Regions from separate parts of the Homo sapiens genome. Here region 2 is linked to region 1. The links come from fine-mapping of genetic effects on gene expression. Tissue or cell type: whole blood. Region 1 holds a variant in brackets; the other region holds the start of a gene. All regions are shown on one strand. Distances are between the middles of the regions.

The links. PIP is the estimated chance that this variant, and not a neighbour inherited with it, causes the effect.
Region 2: it holds the start of SPRYD3, and the variant in region 1 is fine-mapped to the expression of SPRYD3 in whole blood (TOPMed, PIP above 0.99). The same link has a PIP of 0.9 or more in lung, sigmoid colon and stomach.

Annotation. Positions count from the first base shown.
Region 1 is chr12:52,807,639-52,810,319 of GRCh38, reverse strand. It overlaps KRT4 (keratin 4), which reads left to right. Exons shown (of 9, transcript NM_002272.4): 4 at 842-937; 5 at 1,470-1,634; 6 at 1,901-2,026; 7 at 2,456-2,676. Among named protein-coding and RNA genes, the nearest start is that of KRT4, 5.1 kb to the left of the region's middle. The variant G/A (reference allele first, on the strand shown) is at 1,085.
Region 2 is chr12:53,078,019-53,080,699 of GRCh38, reverse strand. SPRYD3 (SPRY domain containing 3) reads left to right here and starts at 1,310. Exons shown (of 11, transcript NM_032840.3): 1 at 1,310-1,389. The coding sequence starts at 1,367. RefSeq lists a silencer at 1,330-1,609.

The DNA.
Region 1 (2,681 bases):
TGCCTCAGCCTCCCAAAGTGCTGGGGTTACAGTTGTGAGCCACCGCACCCAGCTGATTTTTATTTTTATAAATTCATGGGGTACAAGTGTAATTTTGTTACGTGGATAGTTTGTGTTGTGGTGAAGTCAGGGCTTTTAGAGTATCCATTGCTGGGATAACATACATTATATCCAATAAGTAATTTCTCATTATCCAGCCCCTCCCAGCCCTCCCTTTTTCAAGTCTCCATTGTCTATCATTCCATGCTCTATGTCCACATGTACACATGATTTAGCTCCCACTTATAAGTGAGGACATGTGTTATTTGTCTTTCTGTGCCTGAGTTGTTTCACTTAAGATAATGGCCTCCAGTTCCATCCACATTGCTGCAAAAAGACATAATTTCATTCTCTTTTTATGGCTGAGTAGTATTCTATTGTGTATATGTATCATATTTTCTTTATCCAATCATCTGTTGATGGACACTTAGGTTGATTTGGTATCTTTGCTATTGTGAATTGTGCTGCGATAAACATGAGTGCAGGTATCCTTTTGTTACAATGATTTCTTTTCCTTTGAGTGGAATTCCAGCACTGGGATTGCTGGATCCAATGGTAGTTCTATTTTTAGTTCTTTGAGAGATCTCCATACTGTTAGAATAGCCTATTTGGATAATCAACTTCCATGTCTTCAGGTGGCTCTAGGGAAGAATATATAAAATAATTGGTCTCCCACCAGCTCCCCTGCTGCTGAGTAGTCTTTCCTAAATGCTGCTGAGAACACCTGTCGGTGTCACTTAGTAACCCGTCCTCCTACTGGCATTCCTGCTCCTCATCTCTTATCCTCCTTACTCCTCTGCAGGACGTGGATGCTGCCTACCTGAACAAGGTGGAGTTGGAGGCCAAGGTGGACAGTCTTAATGACGAGATCAACTTCCTGAAGGTCCTCTATGATGCGGTGAGGGCTCCATCCTCCCCTCCATCCAGGGAAAGGGAATCCCCCATCTGTGACGCTGCTGGTTGGGATTCACAGTTTTTTGAAAGGACTCCAGCTCCCTTATTTTAGGGCAGTGGGTTCTCATCAAGGTCATGCATAGAAAGGTTT[G/A]AAGTGGGAAATTCAACTGGGAGATTCTTAGAACCAGATGTGGTCTTGGTCTTAGACGGGGTGATTAGATCTAAAGAGTGCTTGGAATAGAATTCATTGCTGTCTAGCATTTTTTTTCTGGTGAAATGGATCCATTCCCTTCCCTTCCATTCCAACACACCGGCACTCACTGCATTAGAGTGGCTTATGGTTCCTGGGGACCAGTAAAGACTAGAAGCATTGCTCTTCCATCCTGAACTGTCACAACCACTTGATTTCTCCTTAGAACTTTACCTGTCTCTCCCCTTCCTACACATTGTGAATGCCAGCTCTGCTCCTACTTGAGCCTGTATCAGGTCAGTGAAGGCTTTCCTGGGGGGGCTGATGTGAGACATTTGCCCTGCAGGAGCTGTCCCAGATGCAGACCCATGTCAGCGACACGTCCGTGGTCCTTTCCATGGACAACAACCGCAACCTGGACCTGGACAGCATTATTGCCGAGGTCCGTGCCCAGTACGAGGAGATTGCCCAGAGGAGCAAGGCTGAGGCTGAAGCCCTGTACCAGACCAAGGTGGGTGGTATGGATCTCTCAGGAGATGGGGCTGGCTCTGGGGCTCTGCTTTTGATGTCTGTGAACAGGTGATCATTAGCTCAAGCCCAATAGAAGTCAGATATGAACAGACTCTCCCAGGCATCGTTGGTCCTGGTCTGATTTGAAACTACTTGACATTTGGTGCTATTCTTGCCACCTGTGGCAATTCTCACTGAGTTCACTTGAGAATGGACCCTACCCAAATGCCCCTAACACCTGGTTCTCTGTGTCTTCTTGAGTCTTAGGTCCAGCAGCTCCAGATCTCGGTTGACCAACATGGTGACAACCTGAAGAACACCAAGAGTGAAATTGCAGAGCTCAACAGGATGATCCAGAGGCTGCGGGCAGAGATCGAGAACATCAAGAAGCAGGTGGGTGTCACTCCCTTCCAGATGGAGCACAAGGCCAGGGGCCTCAGGCAGACATCTCCAGAGTGGACAAGCAGATAAAGCATCAGGCCAGAAGACCCTGAGCTTGTTGCTGGGAATTCATAGCTCTTTGTGCAAGGCATACCCAGATTTTTTCAGCAATATCCTAGTTGGCACACCATGACGCTCCTGTGCATAGGTTTCTTGGCTCTTCTTCATGGGTTTTTGCTCATTTTTATTTAATCAGTCTGGTGGAGGCATTGGTGGGCTATGGCTGGAGTGAATGAGATGCATAAGTCTCAGGGAAAGTGGGCAGAACAGATAGAATCTTGACATCCTAACCCAAGGAAAGCTGGACCAGGGGAGGGGACAGGTGTAGAGGCCTTGAAGGCAGGGCACTGCTGACCACCTATCTAATGCCTTTGTCAATAGTGCCAGACTCTTCAGGTATCCGTGGCTGATGCAGAGCAGCGAGGTGAGAATGCCCTTAAAGATGCCCACAGCAAGCGCGTAGAGCTGGAGGCTGCCCTGCAGCAGGCCAAGGAGGAGCTGGCACGAATGCTGCGTGAGTACCAGGAGCTCATGAGTGTGAAGCTGGCCTTGGACATCGAGATCGCCACCTACCGCAAACTGCTGGAGGGCGAGGAGTACAGGTGAG
Region 2 (2,681 bases), 270 kb before region 1:
CCGTTATGCCGAGTGGGCACTATTCACGGTATGCGAGCTGATGGCTTTCCTGGCACTCAACACGTTAGAGTACCTAGTGTGATAAGAATAGAATAGTCTGGGGTCTGAAGGAGCTCACAGTCTAGCAGAGACGGGTCTACACACACAAGTAACTCCAATAACGAAAGCAAGACGGTAATAAGTGTTATAAATGGCGGGGGGCGGTGGCTCACGCCTGTAATCCCAACACTTTGGGAGGCCGAGGTGGGCGGATCAAGAGGTCAGGAGATCGAGACCATCCTGGCTAACACGGTGAAACCCCGTCTCTACCAAAAATACAAAAAAAATTAGCTTGGCGTGGTGGCGGGCGCCTGTAGTCCCAGCTACTTGGGAGGCTGAGGCAGGAGAATGGCGTGAACCCAGGAGGCAGAGCTTGCAGTGAGCCGAGATCGCGCCACTGCACTCCAGCCTGGGCGACAGAGTGAGACTCCGTCTCAAAAAAAAAAGTATTATAAATGAGGTGCTACAGAGGAGAGGAATCTTTTCCGTCCAGAAGAGAGAGATATGGTGATGGGAAGGGAGCAAGGAAGTCCTCATCTAGGAGTCCAACCCCCCAGAATGGCAGGTAGGCACTCCCTAGTAGGTGTTCAATAAATATTCGTGTCTTCGTCCCTTCACATTCTAACCCCAGTCTAACTTTCCTTCAGCCTACCAAAGCCCTGTGTTCCTCCACAGAATGCCGCTTCGTGCCACTGTGCCTTCTGCATCCCCAGTTCTCTCCTCCTGGAATGGAATGTTCTTGCCAATAATGAGCGAGCGGTGCCATGAAACAGAGCTCGGGAGGGTACACAGCATAACAGTTAAGCGCGCAGGCTATCGAGGCCAGCCTTCGGCCCATCCGTAAAAAGGAGATAAGATTTATTTCATAAGGCTGCACCGTGGATTAAATGGACATTCCGGTAAAGCTTTTATTTCAGTCCAGCGCGGAAGGAGGGCTCAAGTAATACTCGCAACGTTTGTGCGAGCGTGGCCACCTTCTCCGCCCGTCCCGTCTCCCCGGCGCCGCTCAAGAGCCGCCCCCTGTCCGCCTCAGCGGCGCCCAGGCACCCAGCAGCGTCCGCGCTGCCACGTCGCCTTCGCTCACCCCAGCAACAGCCGGGTTGACCAGACCGGGGCCCTGAGCTGGGTACCCAGGGCACCGGGCCGCGCCCCACACCCTGCCTGCGCCTTCCGATTGGCTCCTGCAGGTGCCCGTCGTCAGAGGCCGTTGCTGATTGGCTTAGATGGGGGACGGGGCGGGCCTCTAGGAGTGAAGGAAAGGCGGGGACCCGGATGTGTGTGGTGGCGGCGGCCGAAGAGCTTGTGTGCGGAGCTGAGAGGCCTATGGATGAGGAGGACGCGGCGGCCCCGGTAGGCGGGGATCGGGGGCGGGGTCCCGGAGGCCTCGTATCTCCCCGGAGCCTGAAGCGGAAGGCGGGGGTCCTGGGCGGGGGCTCTGGGGCCAGGGGCGGGGCCCTGCGCTCTGGTCACTGGGCTTCTTCTGTTGCTGCACCCTCGGCCCAGTGCAGGGCCTGGGGAGACTGGGCGTAGGCACACGGATGGGCTGGGGCCCGGCTGCTCCCGGGTCTCATCTCAGTGATCAGGCCGTGCCCGGGGAGGAGACAGGGCCCAGTAGGGCCGCCACTCGCCGGTGCCAAGACTGTGGGGTCTGCGCAACCAGCATCTACCTGGGGTTGAGTCCTGGCTGAGTGCCCGGGAGTGGAATCTTAGGGCTGTCTGTCCCACAGGTGCCTACTCTTCTGGGCCACGTGGTGGGTTGTAGCTACTGCATAAGAGTCGTAATTTGCGTATTGGGATCAAATTCAGCCCAGCCAAGGCTTACTAAGCACCTACCGTGTGCAAGGCAATGTCAGGCCTCAAGAAAACCCCTGTCCCAGTGTTTAGGGAATGGGAAGAGAAGAGTACTTCACCTCTTTCTCACTTTTGGCTCCCAGGAAAAATCATTCATTCATTTATATGTAGGGACTGATGGTTGTTTAAATACCTGGATCATCCCACCCCCATCCATCGGCGCTGCTACCGACTTAGTGGATGTCATTTCTCATGTGAACTGCTGCAACAACGTCTGAATTGTTTGCCCACATCTGTTCTTGATCCTCTTGTGATCAGTTCTCCAACCAGCAGCTGGAATGATCTTTAGGAACTGATTAAGATCGTGGCTTTTTTTTTTTTTTTTGAGATGGAGTTTCTGTCACCCAGGCTGGAGTGCAGTGGGACGATCTCGGCTCACTGCAAACTCCACCTCCCAGGTTCAAGCAATTCTCTTGCCTCAGCCTCCTGAGTAGCTGGGATTACAGGTGCGCACCACCACGCCTGGCTAATTTGTTTGTATTTTTAGTAGAGATGGGGTTTCACCATGTTGGTCAGGCTGGTCTTCAACTTCTGACCTTGTGATCCTCCCACTTCGGCCTCCCAAAGTGCTGGGATCACAGACGTGAGCCACCAGGCCCAGGATCATGGCATTTTTTTTTCTTTTTTTTTTGAGACAGGGTCTTGCTCTGTCAGCCAGGCTGGAATGTAGTGGCACAATCAGAACTGACTGCAGCCTTGACCTGCCAGACTCAAGCCATCTTCAGTCTCCTTAGTAGCTGGGACTACAGGTGCATGCTGCCACACCTGGCTCATTGTTTTAATTTTTAGTA